Regions from separate parts of the Homo sapiens genome. Here region 2 is linked to region 1. Evidence: fine-mapped expression QTL. Tissue or cell type: testis. Region 1 holds a variant in brackets; the other region holds the start of a gene. All regions are shown on one strand. Distances are between the middles of the regions.

Region 1 (8,110 bases):
GTTCAATTTTTTGCGACGTCCCACCTTAATTTATGAATTAGTGATGTACCAGCTACAGTTGCACCAGATACAGTAAGATTTTCATGTTATAGAAAGGAGGTAAAATTATTTGCAGATACGACTGTCTTGGAAAACTCGTGAAATAAATGGGAAAAAAGTAGAAATACAGGTACCTTTCAGCTTACGTCCATTTACTACACATTTGTGTAGTATGTGTTTGCAGTTGTGCGTGCTTTCTATTCATACATGTTTATGCCATTGTTCATGATAGTAGGGCATGATGGCTGATCACCAGTGAATAGCAGAGGCAAGTTTCCTTCTAATATTTACTTTCGTTAGAATGAACCACTAATTTAATTGCTACAAGATGCCAATACCTCTGCCAAACCAAGATGAAGTTTGGCAGAGTGGCCAATTGTATAAATACACAAAAACCAGATTTTGATTAATAACCTGTTAAATAATTTTAAAAGATGACACTATTCACAAAGACATAAATTACCAAGAAATGTGTAGGGCCTCTATAAAGAAAACTTAATGAAAGTAATAAGAGAATAAAGGGAAAATAAAGACTAGAATACATGGAAAGAGACATTCTGTTTTCTTGAATAAGACAAATTGTAAATCAAATTCTCCCCCAAATTACGCATTTAACAAAATTTAAAATCAAAATGCTTATAAGTATTTTTTGTTTTCTTGTTTATGTATTTGGTCTTTGGACTTGGTATTCTGAAAGAGTAAATATGAGAATTGGAAATTTCAGGAAAAAACCTAATGGGAGGGACTTACAATGCTGAATATTACAGAGTATAACAAAACTCTAGTACTGTAATTAAAACTAATTGGTGCAGAAATTCAGAACAGTGAAAAGAGCAGGAAGTCCAAGATCATACTTTAGATATAAGAAGAAATGATGGATTGATTGTTCAGTAAGTGATACTGAAATAATTGGTTATCTATTTGGGAGAGGCAGTACAGCATACCAGTTAAGTGCATAGGGGAAAGAAAAACTAAATGCATTTAAAGCCCTACTTGCTAGTACTCATTAGCTATGACCTTGGGCAAATTATGTAACCTCTCTGTGCCTCGCTTCATCTGTTCTCCCTACCTGTCACATTATTGCAAGGATTAAGTAGGTTAGTATTTGTGGAAGGCTTACTTTGAACAGGGCCTGTCATATAAAATGTACCAACTACAGCCGGGTGCCATGGCTTACACTTGTAATCCCAGCCCTTCAGGAGGCCAAGGAGGGCGGATAACTTGAGGTCAGGAGTTCAAGACCAGCCTGGCCAACATGGCAAAACCCCGTCTCTACTAAAAATACAAAATCAGCCAGGCATGGTGGCCCATGACTGTAATCCCTGCTACTCGGGAGGCTGAGGCAGGAAAATTGCTTGAACCCGGGAGGTAGAGGTTGCACTGAGCTGAGATCGCACCACTGCATTCCAGTCTGGGCGACAGAATGAGACTCTGTCTAAAAAAAAGAAAGTACCAACTATTTTATTATTTATTACTTCATTATATTAATTTAAATATTGAAGTGTCAGCTATCATTTAGGAAAAAACTAAGTCAAATCTCTATCTCACACCCAATACACACCCATAGTAAATCCAGGTAGATTAAAGATTTAAATTTTTTAACAAACTTGTAAAATACTAGAGGAAAATGTAAGTTAATTAAAAAAATAATAATCTTGGATTGCAATAGACCTGCCGAGCATGGTCATCAAAGCCAGAAAACAAAGTTTGATTGATTTGTCTCTACATAACAACAAGTAGGAAAGTACATTTACAATACATATTCCAGGAAGGTTTCATATGCTTAGCTTTTAAGAATTTTTTTTTTTTAAATACCCAACATGACATGCTGTTAGCATCCATAGAGATCCCCATTCCCAGGGTGGTGTACCTATATTGCCAGTGCTTCAGATGTTGGGTACTAATGACTTATCTTCACCCTTTTCCAGAGGATTGTCCTGGGCTGATGAGAGTCACTTTACCTGAAGATACCTGGGAAGTTTTGTCTCCTCTGAGGTTGGCCCATGGCCAGTGACTGATGCAGGACATTACAGCCTGGCCCACTGGCCTCGGTGGTACAATTTATGCTCCTGAGCACCCCATGGGATTACGCTGTGTGTGGATTTCTCCTGAAACCACATATTTGCCTCTTCTGCCCTGTTCTGTTTTTTCTCATTCCCTTATAGAGGACTCTCAGTAAGTCACTTACACAAGAATCCTAATTTGAAATGCTGCTTCCAGGAGACCTGACTTAGAAAATTGGACAAATAAAGTTGATTTTTTTAAATGTCCAGTAACATGAAGATGCTGAACTTTCCTAGTCATTTAGGGGGAAATCACCACAAATATATCTGGCTGATCAGGTTGAAAGTTAAAAGAAAAAAAGATTTATAAAGTGGGTATTTTCAAGATGGTGTGGAGGGAGATACAATTTGATGCAAGTCTTATACTTTTGATGTCAATTTATTCTTCAGAAATAACTGGTTAATTATAAAGGGTGGATGGATAAGGATATTCACTGCAACAATGTCTTAAATGTGAAAATGGAAACAACCTAAATACCCAATAATAACAGGATTAAATAATTCATTGTACATTAAAAGAATACTGTCTATAAAGATGTCTAGAATAAGTTGTTCAGTTGAAGTTGTAAAGCTAAATACACAATACCCATAATGTGCACAGAAATAATCAGAATGTCATGAAACCAGGATTATTGGTGATGTGTTGCTTCCTTTGTTACTCATTTCTGTATTGGCATAATGAGTATTGGGTGTTCAAGAGGAGGGGGAAGGAAGTATGACAGATGTTATGGGGAAAAAGCAAAGTACAACAGGAAGACACCTTGGGGGAACTAATAGAATCTAAGGACTCAAGGATGGCTTCCTGGAGGAAATACAGCTAGAACAAAGGGGAGGAATGAGAAGTGATGTGATGGCGTGGAGTGGGCTGTAGTGGGAAGAAGAGTCTTCCAGGGAGCTGGCACAGTATGTGAAAACAGTAAAGCAAGTGCCTGGATTTTTTAAGGAACTGAAAATTTAGTTGAGTTGAAATTTAGAGTTTGGCTAGGAAGGTTATGAGAGATAAGAATAAAGAGTTAACAGCAGCCAGATTTTAAGGATTTTATAAGACATTTTTAGGAGTTTTTATTTCATCCTGAGAGAAATGTGAAGCCATCGAAGGGTTGAAAGAGGAGAGTGAGTTGATCAGCATTGCATTTTAGAAAAATCCCTCTATCTGCAACTTGAAAAACATTCTGGAGGTAAGCAAGCCTGGAGGCCAGGAGCCTAGGAGGGCTATTTGATCCAGATGAGAAGTAATGGTGACCTGAACTAGGGCAGAGGCACCTAGGATTGGAAAACATGGACAGATCACAGCACTACTTATGTAGTATACTTGGTAAGACCTGGTTGTTTAAAAGAGAAGGATGAGGGAAAGAAGGTCAAAAACAACTTCTAGGACTCTCCATTGGCCAGTGTGGTGTGCCCTTCACTGAAGAGCAAACACAAAATGAAAGATTGTGGGCAAAGAGTTGAGTCAGTGAGAAGGCAAGGAGAGAACCTTATAAAAAAA[T/A]TGACTATGTGATTAAAAACTTAAAAATTTCCCCCAACGTGTTTATCTTTTCCATTAGCAGAAATAACTAAGAGTTGTCTTAATTCTAATGGGATTTATTCCATATTGTCTCTCATGCCCTCTACCTAGTTATTAGTGCAAATATTTATATGTGGCAACATAAAACTTTTTAACTCTTTATTCTCTTCTCTCGTGTACCCTCCCAGCTCTTTAGGGGAGGTGGATTTGAGGCAGATACCATAAAGAAAAGTTGGTCACATGGTGGTAACACGTTGAAGTTATGCCACATGAGACATCAGCACTGGCAAGAGAAATGTCTGTGTTGTAGATGTTTCACTTGGAAGAAATTGAAGGACCCTGAGCCTTAAAAGTCTGACAAACTTAAGCCAGGACCCCTGTGGGGAAGGTAGAGGGGCCAACAAACAAGATTGGGAGTCAGAGAGATAACAATGAAATCCCCAATGCCTGTGGGAGGTGGACTCCCTGGATTAGTACTAGACAGAAAAGGTACAAAAATATTTCAAACCATTCTCACAACTCTATATGTGTCTATGACCAGATAACTGGAAGACCTTCTGGTTATGGACTATGCGTATACACTCTCCCAGATAGTTAGAGGCATATCTAAGAGGTTAACATATATGATCTTATCCAAAATGGGTCTCTTGGTGCTAGTGTTTTACATCAGACTTCACTGGCTTTCATGTATTTCCACAAGTGCCAAACATTTCTCATATCCTTGCTGTATTCCATAGAGCAGTGTTCCTGCTACCTGGAACACTTGATTCTTGAATAACTCCTGTTTACCTTTCAGACAAACCCTAAAGGTTACCACCTCAAAGAAGTCTTTATAGAAGCCTCATCATCTTAGACACTCTGTATTGTTTCCTTCATCGTATTTACAACAGACAGATACTGTGCACTTACTGCCTCACTTAACGACAGGGATACGTTCTGAAAGGTGCATCATTAGGCGGTTTTGTTGTGTGAACATCACAGAGTGTTACTTACACAAACCTAAATGATACAGCCTACTAAACACCTAGGCTATATGAGCAATACAGCCTATTGCTCTTAGGCTTCAAACTTGTACGACATGTCACTGTACTGAATACTGTAGGCAACTATAACACAGTGGTAAGTATATTGTGTATCTAAACAAACATAGAAAAGGTAATGCACTGTACTATGATGTTACAACAGCTAGGATGTTGCTATCAATAGAAATTTTTCAGCTTCATTTTATTTTTATGGGACCACCTTTGTATATGTGGTTCATTGTTGGCCGAAACACCATTCTGTGGCACATGACTATGTATTTATTCCTCATTATTCCTTTAATATTCATCTCTTCCAGGAGGGCATGTCATGGACAATCTCTTTTTCTTACCACAGGTCTTAGGACCTGGCCTAGCACCTGGCCAAGAACTACTGGCATACCTCCTTTTATTGTGCTTCAATTTATTGTGCTTTGCAAATACTGAATTTTTTACAAGTTGAAGATTTGTGGCACCTCTGTAACCAGCAAGTCTATTGGTGCCATTTTTTCAACATCATGTGCCTGTTTCCTGTCTCGCTCATGTCACATTTTGGTAATTTTCACAATATTAAAAACTTTTTCATTATTATTATATGTGTTTTGTTGGTTAGTGTTCTTTGATTTTACTATTATAACTGTTTTAGGTAGCCACAAATTGCACTCATATCGGACAGTGAACTTAATCCATGAATGTTGTGTGTGTTCTGACTCCTCCATCGACCAGCTTTCCCCATTTCCTTCCCTCTCTTCAGGCCTCCCCATTCCTTGAAACAAAACAATATTGAAATTAGGCCAATTAATAACCCTACAATGGCCTCTAAGTGTTCAAGTGAAAGGAAGAACCACACATCTCTCTCAATCAAAAGCTAGGAATGATTAAGCTTATTGAGAAAGGCATGTAGAAAGCCAAGATAGGCTGAAAACTATGCCTCTCACTCAAGTTGTGAATGCAAAGGAAAAGTTCTTGAAGGAAATTAAAGGTGCTTCTCCAGTGAACACACAAATGATAAAGCAAAACAGCTCTATTGCTGAATGGAGAAAGTTTTTGTGGTCTGGATAGAACACCAAACCAGTTACAATAATGCCTTAATCCAAAGCCTAATCCAGAGGCCCTAACTCTTCAATGCTATGAATGCTGAGAAGTGAGGAAGCTGCTGAAAACAGTTGGAGAACTGCAGCGGAAGTTGGTTCATAAGATTTGAGGAAAGAAGCCATCTCTGTAACATAAAAGTGCAAGGTGAAGCACAAGTGCTGATAGAAGAAAGAAGCTGCAGCGAGTTATCCAGAAGATCTAGCTAAGATAACTGATTAACATGGCTACACTGAGCAACAGATTTTCAATGTAGATGAAACAGCCTTCTATTGGAAGATGCCATGTAGGACTTTGATAGCTAGAGAGGAGAAGTCAATGCCTGGCTTCAAAGCTTCAAAGCTTTGACTCCCTTGTTAGCTGGTGATTTTAAGTTGAAACCAATGCTCATTGACCATTCTGAAAATCCTAGGGTTGTTAAGAATTATGCTAAATCTACTTTGCCTGTGCTCTATAAATTGTACCACAAATCCTTGATGATAGCACATCTTTTTACATCATAGTTTATTGAATATTTTAAGCCCATCATTGAAACCTACTGTTCAGGAAAAAAAAATATTCCTTTCACAACATTACTGCTAATTGAAAATGCACCTGGTCACCCAAGACTGATGGAGACGTGCATCTGATGAGGATGTACAAGGAGATGAATGTTATTCTCATACCTGCTTACACAACATCCATTCTGTAGCCCATGGATCAAGGAGTCATTTTGAATCAAGTCTTATTAAGAAACACATTTCATAAGGCTATATGCCGTAGATAACGATTCCTTTGATGGATCTGGGCAAAATAAATTCAAAACCTTCTGGAAAGGATTCACCATGCTAGATGCCATTAAGAACATTCGTGGGTCATTGGAGGAGGTAAAAATATCATTAACTGGAATTTGAAAGAAGTTAATTCCAACCTGTGTGAATGACTTGGAGGGGTTCAAGACTTCGGTGGAGTAAGTAACTGTTGATGTGGTGGAAATAGCAAGAAAACTAAAAGTGGAGCCTGAACATGTGACTGAATTGTTGCAATCTTGTCATAAAACTTGAACAGCTGAGAAGTTGCTTCCTATGGATGAGCAAAGGAAGTGGTTTCTTGAGATGGAATCTACTCCTAGTGAAGATGCTGTAAACATTGTTGAAATGACAAAAAAAGGATTTTGAATATTACATCAACTTAGTTAATAAAGCAGTAACAGGGTTTGCGAGGATGTACTCCAATTTTGAAAGATGTTCTATTGATAGTAACATGCTATCAAATAGCATCAGATGCTACAGATAAATCTTTTATGAAAGAGTTAATTGATGTGGTAAGCTTATTGTTGTCTTCTTTCAATAAATTGACACAGCCATCCCAATCTTCATCAACTACCACCCTCATCAGTCAGCAGCCATCCACATGGAGGGAAGACCCTCCGCCATTAAAACGATTATGACTCACTGAAGGCTCAGATGATCATTAGCATTTTTTTTAGCAATAAAGTATTTTTAAGTTAAGGTAGGTACAGTGTTTTTTAGACATCGTGCTATAGCACAATTATTAAACCACAGGATAATGTAAACATAACTTTTGTATGCACTAGAAAACCAAAAAAAATTGTGACTCACTTTATTGTGATATTAGTTTTATTATGGTGGTCTGGAGGTCAAAAATCATGGACCTGTGTGTTCTCTCCTGGGAAGTCTTTGACATTGCCAGTCCCTGTCCACAAGAATTGTTAAATCTCCAGTTAATTTGCATTTTTCTAATGATCAGTGATATTGAGCTTTCTTTTCCAGATGTTTGTTGGCCACATGAATATCTTCTTTTGAGAAGTGTCTGTTCGTGTGCTTTGCCCACTTTTTTGATGGGGTTGTTTTTTCTTGTAAATTTAAGTTCCTTGTAGATTCTGGATGTTAGAGCTTTGTCAGATGGATGGAGTCTGAATGGCAGTTACTTAAAAAGTCAAGAAATAACAGATGCTGGCAAGGTTGCAGAAAAATAGGAACACTTTTACACTGTTGGTGGGAATGTAAATTAGTTCATCCATTGTGGAAAATGGTGTGGTGATTCCTCAAAGATCTAGAACCAGAAATACCATTTGACCTAGCAATCCCATTATTGGGTATGTACCCAAAGGAATATAAATCATTCTACTACAAAGATACATGCATGCATATGTTCATTGCAGCACTATTCACAATTGCAAAGACATGGAACCAACCCAAATGCCCATCAATAATAGACTGGATAAAGAAAATATGGTAGATATACACCATGGAATACAACGCAGCCATAAAAAGAATGAGATCATGTCCTTGGCAGGGGCATGGATGCAGCTAGAGGCCATTATTCTCAGCAAATTAACACAGGAGCGGAAAACCAAACACCGCATGTTCTCACTTATAGGTGGGAGC
Region 2 (8,110 bases), 35 kb before region 1:
CTCCTCTCTGGTCTCCCTTCTCTTCTTTTCTCTTCTTCTCCTCCTCCCTCCCAAACAACTCTAGTCTCTGCTTGCTTTGCTCAGGAAGCAGTACACTAGGCAAGAACTGAAACAAATTGCCTCCATCCACATGTAGTTCTACCACTAATAATGCCTTAGTTTTCTCAGATATAAAAAATGGATATTGATTTTAAAAACAAAATAACAAAAAGTAAAAAACAGTACTTCTGCAAGTCTAGATCTGAAAACAGTAATAAAACAAAAATAAAAAACAGCATTTAACACACAGCTGCTTTGAAAATAAGATACATACATAAGTACTTAGCAAATTCGCTGGCCCTCAGTATAGTGCTAAATACTGATTGTTATCTATTCCTATTCTTTCTTACCTCTTCTCTTCCTCTTCACCCAGGCTTAGGGTGCAGAGAAGAAAAGAAGTTTATATGGTACAGTCCACAGCAAAAGTTCTGTGACTTTCAAAGAAGCCCACTTTAGTCTCATACTAGCATCAGATAATTAAACAGTCTCCTAGCCACAGCAATTAGGCAAGAAAAAGAAATAAAAGACATCCAAATTGGAAAGGAGGAACTCAAATCATTACTGTTTGCAGACAACATGATCTTATACATGGAAAACCCTAAAGGCTCCCCCAAAAAAACTCCACCATTTAAAACTAGCAAGTAAATTCAGTGAAGTTGCAGGATACAAAATTGACATACAAAAAAACAGTAGCATTCTGTATGCTAATAGGGAACTATCTAAAAAGATCAAGAAAACAATTCCATTTACAATAGCTACAAAAAAAGATACCTAGGAATAAACTTAACCAAGAAGGTGAAAGATCTGTACAATAAAAAAAATTAAGGAAATAAAGATGACACAAATAAGTGAAAAGATATCCCATGTTCATGAACTGAAATAATATTGTTGAAGTAGACATACTATCCAGAACGATCTACAGATTCCATGCAATCCCTATGAAAATACCAATGACATTCCTCACAGAAATATTTTTTAAAATCCTGAAGTTTGTGTGGAACCACGAAAGTCCTCAAACAGCAAGAGCAGTCCTGAGCAAAAAGAGCAAAGCTGGAGATATCACAAAGCCTGACTTAAAAATATGCTACAAAGCTATAGTACCCAAAACAGCATGGTACTGGCAGAAAAACAGACACATAGACCAATAATGTAACAGAATAGAGAGACCAAAAATAAATGCATGCACCTATAGCCAACTGATTGGTATTGAGGGAGGGATTGAGGGAGGAGGATGGGGAGAGGTTGGTCAACAGGTACAAAGTTAGATAGGAGGAATAAGTTCTGATGTTGTATTGCACACAAGGTGACTATGGTTAACAGTAAGGTATTGTTTATATATCACGAAACAGCTAGAAGAGTTTTTTTTAATGTTATCACCAAAAATGCATGAGGTGATGAATATGCTAATTACCTTGATTTGTTCATTATACAACATATACATGTATCAGAACATGAAATTGTACCCTATAAATATGTATAATTACAATGTGTCAACTAAAAATGAAAAAATAATTGAACTATCACCTTATTCACCTTCACCACACATTGGTCATATTTCTGACCAATCTAGATTGTTATGGTCATAGGTGATGATGCCTGTGTGACCCTGCAAAATTAACACTAGATATTCTCATGAAAAACAAAGCGTTTGCTTCATATGACCTTATTCTATTTGCAGAAGTAATATTCTCTTCTACTCCCACTTAGGAAATATCAAGTACTGGAAAAGGCAAAATATCTCTTCTTTACAAAAGTTAACCAAGAAGAGAATTGCATGCTACTGCATGGAACAGATCCTTCCTCCCTTCTGAGACCGACAAGAAAATCGCATAAAGGAGTACTAGTTAAGGTGTGGTCCATAGACGAGAGACTATCTGTGAACTGTTTGTGATCAGTAAATAAGAGAAATTGATGGGTGAAGCATGTGGGTGGGCTCCTGTAATCACAGCTAGGAGAGAGGATTGCTTGCGTTAGAGTCCATCCTGGTCAATAACGAGATACTCTCTCTAAAAACAAAACAAAACGAAACGAAAACTCAGCAGGCCACCAACTAGGATACTCCCTAGGTCAAATGACCGAGCCTCTAATTCTGTGATTGTTGTTGCTGTGCGCACGTTAATAAAACAAACAAACAAACAAAAAGTGAAGATGTTTAGAAAGTTTACAGTACTTTGGCATTGTCCTGATAATCCAAGCTCCTGATCAGCAGATTCTATTCAGCCAGGTATAGGGCAGTTCGAGTGTTGTCAAATTTGTGATTCCCATGAGGCCAGGCTGCTTACTGGTAATGCATAAAGGACCACATCCTGGTTCGCGAAGAGTTTGGGGGTAGAGGAAAAGGAGGGAGAAACTGATCCTTCATCACAGGTAGTTTGAGAGCACTGATGTAAACTATAGTCACACTTTTGTAGTATAATTGATTATTATCCTCAATAGATCATTTACACTAAGTCGGAAAAAAGTGGAAACATCAGATATGTGGGATATGCGTCACCTTGTACATTTCTCAGCTGGAAAAGTGTAAAACATCTCAATTTTGCACCTCCCTTTTCAAACATGTCTTTGGCTAAATCAATGTTGGCTCTAACCGCTCGTCCTAGAGCGAGTCCCGCCATCTTGTGGTTGAAGATGTTGACTGCCACAGAGAATAGCGGGCTTTGACATCAACAGTTCTGATTGGGTAAAAAGACCCTCGTCTTGGGGTAGTTCTCTTTTGAAGTCCTAGAGTCCGTCACACACAAACGCCTTCTTCCCGGTAAGTCCATTGTAAACAACGGAATGGACTTTAGGGAAAGGAAAGGAAAACGTGTTCTTTAAGACTCTTTAAATAGCGTTTTCACCCATTAGCAGAATTCTCTGATTCATGAGCAGCACTAAGTAGATACCGTGTGCGTGCATTTTGAATGAATTCATTTCTACACTATTTTATAGGAGTATTGAATAGTTGGGAATTGGAACCCCTCCAGGGGGAACCAAACATTGTCGTTCAGAAGAAGACAAAGAGAGATTGAAATGAAGCTGTTGATTTCAACACACAAATTCTGGTGGTAGATGAAAGCAAAGCAAGTAAGTTTCTCCGAATCCCTAGTCAACTGGAGGTAGAGACGGACTGCGCAGGTTAACTACAGCTCCCAGCATGCCTGAGGGGCGGGCTCAGCGGCTGCGCAGACTGGCGCGCGCGGACGGTCATGGGACTTCAGCATGGCGGTGTTTGCAGATTTGGACCTGCGAGCGGGTTCTGACCTGAAGGCTCTGCGCGGACTTGTGGAGACAGCCGCTCACCGTGAGTTGCCCCGGCTTCGCGCCTGGCCAACCTCATGCCACCCAGACCATCGGGCCACACTCCGGAGTAACTATTTCCTGATGGGTCTCGGTCAGGTCTCCCAGAGTCTCTGGGATGTCCCTGGAGGCTGATGCCCGCCGAGGTGTTGGTCTGATTCCTAGCGCGGGAAACTCGAAGGTTCTGGGGGTTGTTATCTGGTTCAGCTACTTTCCTGCAATGAGGGAACTGAGGCCTAACGAGGGCGAGGGATTTGCATAGGGGCCTACAGCTGATAGGTGACAGAAGCCGGAGCTGGACTCCAAGGGTACAATCTTCTAAGCTTCTAAGTTACTATCAGCCCTTCCTGATTCTCACGACAGTGTCTAAACAAATACTGGAATTTGGGGCACGGACAGGAAGCGCCGTGGAGGCTCGGAGAAGGAGGAGGACGTGGGAGTGTTGGAACAATACTATCTAGACAGAGAGAGGGTAGGTGGGGGCAGAGGACATACACAGCGGAGTGGAGGTGGAGGAGGAGGATAGCATGGCCCAAATCGAAGGGAAGCGAAAGCCTTGAGAGACGAGAACCTGTTTTAACTATTGGAGTTAGTCATGGGTTCTGTATTCCGTAGACTGTAAAGTGTTGGAATAGAGAGATTAAAAAGAATCAAGAGGTTCGTGTAGTAACATCTGCTCCTCAGAGACAGTTTTCAGCTCATTGTGAGTTCTGATTACTGATACTGTTCAGAGGTGGTGCTAGAAATGACAACCACTTCTTGGCAAAGTGAATCACACCACTTTTTTATTGTTCTCTTTATGAAGTATCCGTGGCGAAATGACTGTCCCTTTCCACTGCTGCCACTAAATGAACGTTATCTCTGTGGTACTTTGCTCATCAGCACGAAGACGAAAGTAGACATGATGATCTGGGCCATTTGGCGCTAATGTTCTTTGATCCTGTAAAATAAGTTTTCCTAGGTGTAGTTTGTCGCAATTATTACCTCCTCAATGAGGCTTTTCCTGACGCCATCCCATTTTTGAATAAATCATGAGCTTCCTAAGAGAATTGCCATGTCTTATCCTTTTATTTACTGTGCTTAACACGTTCACTCTGCAGGCACCAGTACATGGCAGTTACTCAGTTAATGCTTGTGGAATAAACTGAACACATTAAAAAAATTAATACAAAAAAGAAAAGTTAATAATGATTTCTTTAGAGAATTTCCCCCAGTTTAAAATACACTTGGAAGAGGTGTGGTAATATATGTACATTGTTAGTGGTTATTTGTTTGTAAATTAAATGGAATTCATGGCATATAAAGTTGCCTCAACTTACAAGTCAAAGACAAAGGACTGCTCTGCTATTTGATGAGTCTGGAACTAAATAGTGGACATTTGCAAAGAATAGGAAAGACAGAGCCCTGGTTCTCAGTTTCTGATGTGATACAAGAAACCAATAATAAGCTTCAGAAATATACTGTGTAAATTAAAATACCCTAAAGCCTGATTGGGGAAGTAAGTACTCCTAAGCTGCCAGATGAGGAGTAGTCTAGGAAAAAGTTTTGTGGAGAAACAGATCCTAGTTGACATTTCTGTAGAACGGTAGGGACATTGTTTAGTAGCCAAAAGGATATCCTAAATGGGTATAACAAGGAAGTTTAGAGCAGATTTGGGAGTGTGGTAAAGAAGAATAGGGAGGAGGTGTGGCTGGTTGATTTGACTAACTGGGTGCAAGGTGAAGCCCAAGGTACAGGCATACTTGTGATTTTTTTTTTGTTTTTAAGGGTAACTTTCTTCAGGGAGCCTTTTGTGACCCCTACACCAGGTTTCACTGTGCTATGTACTTCCATAGAATCCTTACTTATAAAAAACATGTATTTATATACAATGACTTGCTTAATTGCCTTATTTGCCTTCGTTCTCCAACAGACTAGGCTGTAAATTTCTTGTGGAGAAGGATTATATTATTTATCCTGTATGCTCAACACCAGTTTAGGGCTTGTCAAGTAATGGATGCTCAGTAAATATTTGAGGGAGGAAGGGAAGAAGGAAGTTGGACAAACTGTTGAGAGTTTGGCATTGATATGTATTTTAATGTTAATATCCTTTCATCCCCATTGGTATTTTTAAAAATTAAAGATGGGAGTCATGATTTAGATTTTTTTTTGGTAGCCCAAATGTCCAGAACAGTGCTAACTGATGAGGATAATAAAGCAAGCCCTTGACCTCAAGGAGCTCCCAGTCTGTCGATGGTGTGCAGCTTAAAATGGGAAGCGGGCAGTGGTGTGAGGGAGTTATCACTCCATTTCTCCTTAGGAAAGGAGTCTCTGAAGGAAGTAGAAGGATAAAAAGCAAAAGAAATGAACGGGAATAAAAGTGACAGTGATAAAGTAGGAACTTGATGGGATAAAAATGAATATAGGGTCATGAAAGAGAATGACATTTGAAAAGGAGAAGCACAAAGTTAAGAGTCTTTAGTATCATTTTAATAATAATTCATAATGGTTAAACAAAGACCTGTGTGCCAGGCACTGTTCTCAAACACCTCATGTGTATTATTTCATTTAAATTTCATGACAGTGTATGAAGAAAGTGTTGTTATTTTCACCATTTGACAGATGAGGAACCTGAAACTTCATGTTAAGTAACTTGTAAGTGGTAGTGCATAGACTTTAAATCAGGCAGACTGACACTAGAGTTCACATTCATAACCACTCCTCAAATGTCCTCCTACTCTTGACATCTAGACTCAGGATGGACCTGTGTTACAGGAAGGAGAGGTTGTTATATTTAACAAAAGTGTTCAATTTTTCTTTTTCAGTTGGCTATTCAGTTGTTGCTATCAATCATATCGTTGACTTTAAGGAAAAGAAACAGGTAAAATAATATTTCTAAAGTTAATAAGTTCATAAATAAGTATTTGTAATTCTGTTTGTATTGGTAATTTGGAAGCTACAGATTAGAATATTTCTTAAATGCACCCCTTTGTGCACTACTACTTTTCTATTTTATATAGAAACAGTCGAGCTGATGCATATTTATACAATGATGATTTTTGTGAGGTAATATGACATAGTGTTCAGGATTCTTAAAGGTGATTTGAAATTAAGTTACTTTTCACTGTTCAAAAAGTGCATTGTTATTGGCTGGACTGTAATCAAAATATTTAGTCCTTTTTATTCTATTGTCATGGGCTTATTAACTACTTTCTCTCTTAAACATTACTAATAAGTATGTATATTTCTCTTTAGGCCAACAACTGTATCCTGTAGATTATTTCAGTCTAAAAATTAGTTTTCATTCTTCCTATTCACTGATGTTTACAGTTGCTTCTCTATTTAGCTTTCTTTTTAAAAATAATTTTTAAAAGTTTTTTTGAATACCAGAAATCACCTTGCTTTCTTTTTAAAAAAAATGCATATTTTTTCTGAGAACACCTCGTAATTTTTCCATTATGCCTTGTGCTATTAATGGATACAATCTGCAGTAACTATTTATCGTTTGTTGTAGGAAATTGAAAAACCAGTAGCTGTTTCTGAACTCTTCACAACTTTGCCAATTGTACAGGTAGGTGTTTTGTTGTTTACGAAGCATAATATCTATTTATTCAGTTAAAAGGTACCTAATTATTGTGCTATTCTCTAGCTTGAGCTGCACCTTACTCTGAGTACCAGTCTTAACGTTTTCCTCAAGGCTCAGCTCTTCAGGAAACATTCTTTTACTATCAATTCAGCATTGCTTTGATGATCTTCTTTCCTGAAGTCCTACAATTTTTAAATTATCTCGTTATGTAGTTTAAGATATATACATCTCTTTCTGTGGCTGTATTGTAAATTCCTAGAGAACAAGGACTGGGTTTTATTGATCTTCACTATCCCTTATAGCCAGTACCTTTTAATGAATACTTTCCACTGGTAAAAAGGAAAATCAATTATTGTCTTTTGTGCTTTTTTGACATCATGTCTTTTTTAAATAGGGAAAATCAAGACCAATTAAAATTTTAACTAGATTAACAATTATTGTCTCGGATCCATCTCACTGCAATGTTTTGGTAAGTTAATTATTTTTCTTCTCTCCTTTTGGCTTTGTGAGTTGTATTGATTAATGTTGAACAATGTTGCATTTTGTCTTCCCCATTTTACATTTTCCCTCGCCCCCGCCAAACCATGACACCTGCTTGCTCTCCTTGTCCTCAGAATTCACACAGTGTAATATGTCTGTTCCACTTACTCATGGCACATGTGTAGTGATACCACAATTAAAGAATCCCTTGGCAACTGTTACTCATTGAACTCACGTGCACCAGACTTAAGGTGGGTGCTGGGGGGTATTGCCATGAATAATAGCACAATCCTTGAACTTATAAAGCTTAAAGTTTAATTGGCAAGGCAAGCACTGAACAAATAATAATTACAAATGTAAGGAATGTTCCAAGGTAGGGAAGTGGTAAATAAAGGATGCTCTGGGAGTATGTAACCTGAGTAAGTTGATATTCAAGCTGGGAGACAGAAGAGTCAGTAAATGTTAAATAGGTGACAAGCAGGGAGCTAATGTTCCCAGATAGGATGGATTATGCATAGGTCCTGAAGCTAAGGAAAACGTGGTATTTTCTGGGAAGTGAAACAAAACAATAGGGCTAAGCCTAGTGAGCCGGTTACATGGCATAAGGTTAAAGATATAAATTTGGGTGAGGATTCCAAGAGCAGTTGGAAGCCCTTGAAGGTTTTAACTAAGGGAGTGAAATGAGGTTTGAATTACAGAGAATGGATTAGAGGGAGTTAAGGAGGGTACTTAAGAGGCATCCAGGAG

Alleles and levels. Positions count from the first base shown, and alleles are read on the strand shown. Sizes are in standard deviations (SD) of each study's normalised expression.
For the expression in testis of the gene that starts at base 3,228 in region 2, T is the high allele of the variant in region 1 and A is the other (small effect, 0.36 SD a copy in GTEx).

The links. PIP is the estimated chance that this variant, and not a neighbour inherited with it, causes the effect.
Region 2: RPP30 starts here. The variant in region 1 is fine-mapped to the expression of RPP30 in testis (GTEx, PIP above 0.99).

The regions. Positions count from the first base shown.
Region 1 is chr10:90,903,335-90,911,444 of GRCh38, forward strand. It overlaps a transcript of RPP30 not described here. Among named protein-coding and RNA genes, the nearest start is that of ANKRD1, 14 kb to the right of the region's middle. The variant T/A (reference allele first, on the strand shown) is at 3,592.
Region 2 is chr10:90,868,747-90,876,856 of GRCh38, forward strand. RPP30 (ribonuclease P/MRP subunit p30) reads left to right here and starts at 3,228. Exons shown (of 11, transcript NM_006413.5): 1 at 3,228-3,322; 2 at 6,123-6,178; 3 at 6,812-6,868; 4 at 7,278-7,352. The coding sequence starts at 3,241. RefSeq lists enhancers at 3,066-3,360, 3,079-3,348, 3,479-3,538.